Homo sapiens: one gene and its partner. The protein of the gene in region 1 purifies or fractionates together with the protein of each later gene. This does not show direct contact. Each region holds a gene or a part of one and is shown in the gene's direction. Other genes may lie near its edges.

Region 1 (5,974 bases):
TCTCTACAGTTGGAGATTGGCACTAAGGGGCTATGAGGGAACCTCGTGAGGACTTGTCCTTCCCTTTGTTGGTCAGTGGCCATCTGGTGTCTGAAGAGAACCGCTGGCAGCTGCAGTGCCTCTGCTACAGCCAGGCTGTCCCAGCTGCTCACAGACCTCAAGCTCAGCCATCCTTCTCCCTCCACTGGCCTTGACCCAGACTTTCCCTGGCATTCTGACTAGGGAACCAGGACCCCTGCTCCTGGGGTCTGGACACAGACCTTCCAGAAACGCAGATGAAGAGCCCTGGCCATGCTTGTCAGGGGCATATCCTCACCCTGGCTCAAGAAATGGCAGGCTATCTGCATGAATCACAGCTGGGCCTTTCATAGTCAGTTCCACATTCTCCTCTCCCAACTGAACAAAGTTGAAAGGGACTGGGATCCCAGGCTAGGCAGGATGCTGTGTTGTTTGTGACAGCCACTCTACCCTCTGCCACCCCATCCCCCACTTCCCTGCCTTTCACAGCCTATATGCCTGGTTGGTACCCAGTAAACTTCACAGCAGGACTGATGTTTGGCATGTTTCCTGGCCTCTTCATGCCACTACTGATAGAGGAGCCACTATCTCTGGTCTCCATCCTGATGTCATGTGGAGGCCTACTATCTGTGGATAGAGTTACTGCTGACAAGGCAGCCTGAAGCTTTAAAGTGTATCCATGCCTTCAACAAAGATTGTTGCAGGCTGTCTAGTATTCTACATTGGTGCCCCAAGGTTCTGTGCCTTTGAGGAGAAATTCCCACAGAAAAACAGCTTGTTCGCCAATAGCTCCACAGCAGCCTAACACTCCCCTTCTTCCAGTAGAGAAGACCTAAGATGTGAACCTACTCTCCCTGCGCAGGCTACAGACTAAAGGCTAGACTCCGCAGTCTGCCTGTCACCTCCTCTCCCACTATATATTCCTACCTTGGTGTACCCTCTTCAGGCGCCTGGAGCTGCACCTCATTGCTGTGTGTGTGTGATTTGTGGTTGTGCACATGCTCTCCACTTTGTCAAGGACCACTTTTGTCAGCATACTGCTGTTCTTTCTTCAAGACTCAGCTTCTTCAGCTAGCCCTGCCCACTCTCGGCAGAGTCAGTCCCTTCCGCTTGTGCTCCCACATTGCCTCTTGCTCAAAAGTACTTACCATAACCTTTCCAGGCTAGGCGCCTCCAGCTCCTTCTAGGGGCGAGCCACCACCTCAGAACTCACTATATTTGCAAAATAAACAGCCCTCAGCATTGTAGAGGGAATGGCCCAAAATCTTAGACCCAGTTCAACGCTCCACTTCGCGGTAATCATCTTGCTCAAGTTTTCACCACAGCCTTGCCTAGCCTGGGCTACTCTTAGGGCAGGCTTGGAAGGAAGTGCAGCTTCCTGAATTAGCTGATGTTTGGTAAGTGGTGGTGGAGGAAAAGGGTGGGGCTTGAGGATATTATAACTCGGGTCACCCCTGAGTGTTGCTTTTGGTCATTGGGGTGCCTCATATTGCCAGACAAGAGCTCAGACCTGAGGAGAGTGACTAGCTTCTCTGTGTCCCAGGTAAGCACTTCGGTCTAATTACTGCCTGCTCCTTCCACAGCTGTCTTGTCCTCATCCCTCCTGTTTGGCTCACACCAGGGGAAGTGGACACTGGAAAGATTAAGCCAGCTGGTTCTCTTTCTTTGTTTTTGAGATGGGGTCTCTCTCTCTATCACCCAGACTGGAGTACAGTGGCACAGTCAGGGCTCACTCCAGCCTTGACCTCCTGGGTTCAAGTGATCCTCCCACCTCAGCCTCCGGAGTAGCTGAGACTACAGGCGCACACCACCACACCCAGCTAATTTTTGTTATTTTTTTCTAGCGATGGCGTTTTGCCATGTTGCCCAGGCTAGTCTCACATTCCTGGGCTCAAGCAGTCTGTCTGCCTCAGCCTCCCAAAGTGCTGGGATTACAGGTGCAAGCCACCACACCCAGCCTGCCAGCTGGTTCTCGATGGCAGCTCCCAACATCAGTAGAGGTCCCTGGGGTACTTTTCAGGAGGAAAACTCACTTCGTGTAGCCCATTCAGCTAAGGGAAGCCACGGGGCCCTTAGGCAAACAGACCCTGGGCTCTGGGGATACTGCAGTGAAGGAGACATGTCCCTCCCCACAGGGAATCTCAGTGGGAAGAGACAGAGCTGAATACATTTACCTAGCATATAAATATTAGGGCTACTTGGGGATTGCTTCACAGATTCTGTCATGTAAAAATGCTGAATAAATATTGAATGGATGAGGGAATGAATGAGTGAGTGAATGAATAAATGAACTAGCTGGGCCTTGAGAAAGACACGTGTGTAGCCCTTAGTCCTTTTCGAAGGTAATTGCCCCAGTTACCTCATTTTATCCTTGAAATAGACCTGCAGCATAGAACAAGAATTCCACACCCCTATTTGACAGATTTGGAAACTCAGCATAGGTATGTATGGTTTGGGGAGATTTATCAGAAGCTGATTTGTTGCTTTATTAAATAAAAAACTACCCACTCCCCTTGCTTCCAATTTTGGAAAGGCACATTAGCACATACCTATACCAGACCCTGTGCCGGCCATGAGTGCAGAGGTGATCAAGTTGGGTGGGGTAAGGAGGTGAAGAAACTAGAAGCAGAGCTATCAGTTTAGGAGGCTGTTGTAATAATCAGGCCGGAGGATGGTCTGGTGCAGTGTGTGGGAATGGGGAGGAGGGGATGCAGAGGAGAGCTCTTAGAGAGCCTGAGATCCAATTGCATAGAGGAGGTGAGGGTGAGGGATGCGCGCAGGCAGCCCGAACGGCCGTGTGAGTGAGCACACTTCGATGTCTCCAGTCAAGGTGGAGAACAGAAGAGCTTTGTGGGGGTAAGGTGATGGAAAAATGAGTATGGCTTTGTTGAATTTGAGGAGCTTCTCCACCATCCAGATAGTGATGTCTAACAGACCACTGGGATTTAGGATTTGGCTGAGGCCAAAGGTAGATTTGGGAGCCCTGACACAGCTATTAATGAAACCTTGGGAATGGGCGAGATAAAGGGAGTGTAGAGGGAGGGCATGACCGAAACTTGGGAACCCCATTGTCTGAAGGAACAGAAATTACTGATGAAGACTACGAGAGACTCAGGAAGGAGACCTAGGAGAGACTGGCCGTGAAAGCCAAGGACAGGGGGAATTCTGTAGCAAAGAGAATGACTACTGGCTTTGCATGCCTGAGAGAGGGCAGCAGAGGTGGGGACTGAGGAAAAGGCTTGGGATTGGGCAGTTAGGAGGTCACCAGTGACCACGTGGAGGGCAAATTAGTGAGCATAGTGGGAGTAGGCAAGGAGGGGAGTGTAGGGGTGGGAAGGTACTATATTTCCAGAAGTTCTGCTGTTGCAAGGAAGGGAGGTAAAGTGACTCAGTGGACAGATGTCTCTTCCCATATTGGGCCCTCTGCTGTGTTTCCCTTTTCCCCCACCCCTAAAGAGCACCTGACTCACTGAGGGCTCCCTTGGGACTATGGAAACAGCAATACCACCTCCAGCTCGGATGAGCGAAGTATCTGACATTTCTACAGTTCCTTACAGTGTGCAAAGGACCACTAACTCCTTTAATCCTCACAAGAACTGAGCTTTTCATGTTATAGAGGAAATGGAGAATCATAGAGTTTCAGTTCAGATTCAACTACATAAATCTGAATGCACATCTGAGCAAGTTCCTTTGCTCTCGTGATCTCATTTGCCCCACACAACCCTTTGATACATGTTGGTCCCATTTCACAGATGAAAAGCCTGGAGGTTGAGATGGGGTGCAGCTGCCTTGTGGAGAGCAGGGTTCCCACCTCTGAGTACAGGGCTCTTTCTGCTCTGCATCACTTCACTGTTAAAACCCACCTGATGTTTATGTTGCACACTACATCTCATAAAGCATTTCCCCAGGTGTTATTCTATTTAGTGCTCACAACAACCTTGTGAGGGTAGATATTATTTCCTCCTGTTTTATGGATGGAAGCTGAAATTCAAAGAAGTCATAAATGACGTCCAAGGTCAGGTCACTAGTGGAACCCCTTTCTGAAGCACAGATCCACCCCTGTCCATGACCCCTGTTGCCTTCAGGATGAAATTCATGTGCCTTAGCCTGGCACAATGGCTGTCCCTTTTCCAGCCTGCCTGCTTCTCTGGCAGGTCTTTGGTTCCCTCTTTGTTCCAAGCCTCTAGCATGTCCCTGACCTCCCAACCACAGCAGCATGTCCATCTATTACATGTGGCCATCTTGCTCACTGCCTGTGCTAATCATACTGTGATTGTTGATGAGACTGTGAGGTCCCTGAGGGCAGGGCCTAGGTCTGCTTCATCTGTACCACAACGTCCAGCATAGCAGGCATCAGGAACTGGTGAATGTCAATGAATGACAGAATTAACGAATGGCATTTGGACTGAAATCAGCCTTTCCAGTGCTCTCTCATTAGACATGCTTGTGAAAAACAAGGGCCTTCTGGTTGACTGCTACAGGATCTTTGATGGTTGGAGGTTCTGAATTCTGCTCCCAGCTTCCTTCCTGGTCCCCTTCAGAAGGAAGGAAGTTGGTCTGGGTTACAGACTCCTAGGGCCTATAGAGTAAATGGTTGACCCAGGTTGTCCCTTTTCTCCCATAGGTGGCCACCTTCCACTGTGGAAGCTCATGGACTCCATTGGGTCTTCAGGGTTGCGGCAGGGGGAAGAAACCCTGAGTTGCTCTGAGGAGGGCTTGCCCGGGCCCTCAGACAGCTCAGAGCTGGTAAGTTCAGCACTGGGTTCCTGTTTCATGCTTGTCTAAGGCCTTCAAGAGCAGCGTGACTGAAGCTGCCATGGGGCCCTGGGCTCTCACCCATGCAGCCCCTTTCCACTGAGCTTTTCATATCTGAGCTGGTAACGATCTCCTTTCATGCTCCAAACAACTGCAAGGTTGGGCTGATCATCTTACAGGTGATGAAGAGGGATATAGAGAAGTGTTATGACTTGAGTTTAAGACATGACAGGAGCTTGAGCTGAGGTGTTTCAGCTCCAAACATGTCATTTTTGCCACCTTGCCACACAGGTGCCGCTCCCGCCCCAAGTGGGTGACACAGTCTAGAGTGGACTTTCTCAGGGTTATCTGGTCAAAAGTTGTGTTCTTGAGACCTTTCCTTTCCCGCCTCTCCAGTTCCTCCTGCATGTCTCCCTCAATGTAGCCGCTACAATCAGGCACACAGACGATTTTAGTGCCAAACTCATGCCTGAGGCTTGCTCAGAAGTGAGTTTCTTCTTTTTCTGTCATCTTGACCAAGATTTAGAAGCTGTCTCATACCACACCCTTGAGCAGGAAACTCTTGTGTAAGCCATTTCATATCTCTTAGTCTCTGTTTCCTCATCAGTAAAATGGAGGAAAATAAAGTCTAATCCTCCCCACCCCCTGAAGGCTAATGGAGATAAAGGACTTGCCTATGGCCGGGCGCGGTGGCTCACGCCTGTAATCCCAGCACTTTGGGAGGCCGAGGCAGGTGGATCACCTGAGGTCAAGAGTTCAAGACCAGTCTGGTCAACATGGTGAAACCCCGTCTCTACTAAAAATACAAAATTAGCCGGCATGGTGGCACATGCCTGTAATCCCAGCTACTTGGGAGGCTGAGGCAGGAGAATCGCTCGAACCCGGGAGGCAGAGGTTGCAGTGAGCCAAAATTGTGGCAGTGCACTCCAGCCTGGGCAACAAGAGCAAAACTCCATCTCAAAAAAAAAAAAAAAAAAAGTCCGGGCGCAGTGGCTCAGGCCTGTAATCCCAGCACTTTGGGAGGCCGAGGTGAGCGGACCACAAGGTCAGGAGATCAAGACCATCCTGGCTAACACGGTGAAACCCTGTCTGTACTAAAAAATACAAAAAATTAGCTGGGCATGGTGGCAGGCGCCTGTAGTCCCAGCCACTCGGGAGGCCGAGGCAGGAGAATGGTGTGAACCCGGGAGGCAGAGCTTGC
Region 2 (4,346 bases), about 140 Mb from region 1:
AAATGAAGTGAGAGCAGATAAGAAAACCAAAGTTGGAACCTCAAGCAATATCAAGGGAGGAGGTCAACAGAATTAACAGAGGAATGCAGAAATAGAGAACGTTGGGGAAAATAAAGGTGAGAGCCTGGGAGAAAGTAAGTGGAATAGAGATGATCTAAGATAAATACCAAATATATGTGAAGAAGTCTTTAGGGTTCAGTGCACTAGGTCTGATCATGTTAGGTGAATGGTTGAGTATCTAGGTGTTGATTAGGTGCTGTTAACCTTTTTAAGGCAATTTTGAGTAACACTTAGAGTACCATTTAGTTAAATGTGTATGCTTTTAAGGGTGCCTAAATTATGCCTAGTGGATTGACATACTGAACTGTCATTGTCTCAAAAGTTTGTGCATTTATTATGTGTTAAATTTAAAAAAACTTAACTCCTTCCCTTATTAAGCTATCATAGAAATTACATAGAGTACAAAATAGCAATACTCAACTGACTGGTAAAACAAGTCTTAAAAATTTGTAATTGCAATAAATTTAGTTTTAGATAAGTAAAACCATCTGTGATAATTTAATAAAGGTGTTATAAACCATTTAGGTAATAGCATAACTATCACATCTGGATCTTAAAGTGTGCTAAATCTATCCATTCAAAATCTTGCTTTTTTCCTTACATGTTGTGCTTTATTTTAATATCAGAGCTGTGTGGGGAGACATGATCTTGGCTTTCGGAGATTCTGTAGGAGAAACTCTTGCTTATATTGAAATGTGTCTGTCTGTCTGTAGATCTCATGGAGTCACCTGCTTTTTCCAAGTGTCCTGGTGAATCTTTATTTATTTATTTATTTATTTTAATGGAGAGAAGAATTAACAGGTTTTTGGGGAAAATATTAAAGACTGTTACTAATAATGTTGTGTAACATTGCAGAGAATTGGGAATGTGTTCTAAATTTCAGTAATTTCTCTAACCTTTTAATGGTAAGACATTGTCTAAGAAATCATGTGTTCTTATTTTTGTCTGATTAAAGGAGTGTTTTAAGATATTTGAAGTCATGTTATTTTCAAAGGTTTAGCAAGAAATTCTTACCAGCTTTTGCATATGCCTTTTAAACAAATATAATTATTGGACTTCAGTACTCACTGGCTGTGGCGATTGAATGTAAGGGAAGAATTAAAGCCAGTTGAATAGTGATTTAAGCCTTTCTAATTGATGCTGTTTATTAAGTGATTTTCTTATTTTTTATCTGTCTCATTTAGCCAGTTCATGTTAATAAAGCTTAATAGCCCAACCAGCGAGGCCTTTAAAGAAAATAAGAACTTACATTCTCTAAATGAATGTTGAGGATGACTTATTAGAAAGTTAGTTCACAAGAAGAAATTTGAGTGGGAATAAGAATTTATGAACTGACATTTCTGCTTCAATGTTAAGTATTCTGATGCTGCCTGAACTTTGTATTTAGATTTGGAATTTTAGGAATTTTATTATTGTTAGCAATCATAGAAAACTTGAAGTTTTTTGTTAGTTCTCCAAAACTTTTTCTCCCACAAATTCAGACCCTTTCGCCATCTCAAGCCAAAGTTCCCTAACAGTCAACGCCATGTATCTTATTTTCCTGGGGCTTGCCGAGAGCCAGGAAGTAAGCATAAAAGTTTCTGAACTACCAGACTAGCATTTACAGGGCTTACACAGTAAGGTTTATGTGCTTTTTTCCTGGGTACATGTTCCATATTGTCCAAACCAAAATTTGGAACATAAGGTAAAAATCCTGGATAGGGAATTGAAGTATGAGGGCCAGCTACCCTTGAAGTTTTATTTAAAGTAGAAGTGGTAAATTAGATATAACTGTTGTAATAGGCTTATTGTGCATTTGAATTAGTTATCATTGTCTTTGGCAGTTTGCAGTGCCTTGTTTAATACATTTGATTAAGTTCAACTAGTAGTTAAATGAACACAGTAGTAGGCAGTCAAATATTTAGATGAATTTTTTTTAGAGCTTAACTTCTAGCTGTGTAAAGTGTTCACGCCTAAAGTGGAATTGTAAGAGATAATTATAACAAAATAATATACTATAGTAACTAATCTAACTCTCCTCAGTTCTAAGGGTTGGTTTGCACACTGTTGTCACTTTCTGGGTTATCTTCTGTAGCATCTGCTTCTGCACTATTCTTGCTTTTCTGGAAAATGTATGCATGAGTTCATTCAACAAATACTTAGCTAGTACTTAGGCCCTGAGGAACAATGGCAAACAAGATAAGTAAGATCACTGTTCTCCCAGCACTTATATTCTAGTAAGGAGATTCAAAGGGATTTTTTAAAAATACCAGGAAATTTTAGGTGTGGTAAATGCAAAAAAGGGAATTAACAGGTGTTGGGATGGAGTAATTGGCAGTGGTGGCTGTTGCAGCTGCAAGGGCAGCACTAGCAGCAGCTGTTTCAGCAGTCCTGGCACCCCAGGGTTAAAAAGAGTCAGAGTTAGGTGGAGGGATGGAAAGCATTCCAGCAAGTACAAAGGAAGAGCTTGGTGAAAATAGACCAAAGAGATTAGAGTGTTGGGAATGGGGAGGAAAAATGAGGTAGGAGAAAGGAGCAGAAGTCAGGTGGCATAAGCCTGAGAGTTGGTAGGAAGAAAGTGCCATTTGTAGAAGGGCATTAAGCTGAGGAAGAGACATGCTGTGGTCTCTCTGGTTTCTGTGTTCGGAATAATCTATAGGGTGCCAAGAGTGGAAGTAGGGAACCCCTGTCAGAGGCTTGTGCAGTGGTTCACGTGTGAGATCATGAGTGGTAGAGGGGAAGAAGAGAAAAGTGCTTGGATCAAATATAAGATTTAGTAATTGGATGTGGAAATAAGCAAAAAAGGAGGCATCGGCTGTGACTCTAGACTGTTGGCTTAAGCCATAGGTGGGGAATTCTTGGGCCAGAAAATCAAGGGCTAGATATTGAACATGCTAGATACTGAATGAATAATAATAGCATTTCAAGTATTCAGTATCTAGCATGTTCAATATCTAGCCCTCTAAATTTGAGGTGCCTGTTAGATAGCCAAAGAAAGATGTCAAATAAGCAGTTGAATAAATGTATTTGAGGCTCTAAAGATAGGCCGGGTTGGGAGATAGCAGTTGGGAATCATCAGCATCAGCATATAGATCTCTTTTAAAGCCGTGAAACTAGAGATTGCCAAGGGAGAGGGTAGTGGTCCATACTCACTGAGAGGTGGTTAGTGCCGTTTTAGTCAATCTGTAGCTGGGTAATGATAGTGGTAATCTGAATATTCATGCTCTGTTGGTCCATATTAAGAAATTCTACTCTAAAATAGTTTTTCAAACCTTACTGACTCATGTTGATTTGTTGATTAAATTAAATGAAGGATTTTTCTAGTTATTATCATAGTCAGTGCTTTCCTTTAAAAAATTATTGACATTGGTTGCTTAGTCTAAGTTTAATGAGGCTTTTGGCTAGGCATTAAATTTTGGCACAGGCTGTCTAATCTATTATAGTATATCTTGGTAAGTTAACATCTATTAATTAATTTTCACAATAGCCAAATGCTTCCTCAGCTTCTCTTTTGTGAGAACATAACGAAAATTACAAAGCAAGGACAAAACTATTTAAAAACTCTTAACCCAGTATTCGTAGGCAAAAGATGGGGAAGGTAGGTATCAAAATATTAACACTAATGATTTTGAGCCATAAGATTATATTTGATTTCAATTTTCTTTAAATATGCATTTTCCATATTGTTAGTGTTTTCTTTATAACCTTTAAAAAGTAAAATATGTATTAAAATGCTGTCTAAAAATTAGTTTTACTTTATAGTTCAGTAAGTAATGATTTAAAACAAAATATTTGAGATTGTATATTAGGCTGGGTGTGATGGCTCACACCTGTAACCCCAGCTTTTTTGGAAGCAAGGTGTGTGGATTGCTTAAGCCCAGGAGTTCGAGACTAGCCTGGGCAACATGGTAAAACCCCATTTCTACCAAAAAAAAAAATAAAATAAATTAGCTGGTTGTGGTGGTGTGCACTTGTAGTCCCAGCTGCCTGGGAGGCTGAGGTGGGAGGGCGGCTTGAGTCCGGGAGGCAGAGGTTGCAGTAAGCTGAGATCACACTACCACACCCCGGCCTGGGCAACAGAGCCAGACCCCGTCTCAAAAAAAAAAAAAATCATGTCTAGACAGGTATTTGAAAGACTGATTTTGTTACATAAAGAGGAAAGGTATAAGCTGGGCACAGTGACACGTGCCTATAATCTCATCTACTTGGTAAACGGAGGCAGGAGAATCATTAGAGCCTAGGAGTCCAAGACCAGCCTGAGCAACATAGCAAGACAGCATCTCAAGAACAAAAAAAAGAAAAGAAAA

What was found. The genes of interacting proteins can lie anywhere in the genome.
Region 2: the proteins of HK3 (region 1) and NADK2 fractionate together in Homo sapiens (co-fractionation; one large-scale study listed by BioGRID). This does not show direct contact.

Annotation. Positions count from the first base shown.
Region 1 is NC_000005.10:176,894,854-176,900,827, reverse strand, and holds the start of HK3 (hexokinase-3), read left to right. Parts: upstream 1-1,481; 5' UTR 1,482-1,561; intron 1,562-4,642; 5' UTR 4,643-4,668; coding exon 4,669-4,764; intron 4,765-5,974. UniProt on the Homo sapiens protein: Catalyzes the phosphorylation of hexose, such as D-glucose and D-fructose, to hexose 6-phosphate (D-glucose 6-phosphate and D-fructose 6-phosphate, respectively).
Region 2 is NC_000005.10:36,228,426-36,232,771, reverse strand, and holds part of NADK2 (NAD kinase 2, mitochondrial), read left to right. Parts: intron 1-4,346. UniProt on the Homo sapiens protein: Mitochondrial NAD(+) kinase that phosphorylates NAD(+) to yield NADP(+). Can use both ATP or inorganic polyphosphate as the phosphoryl donor.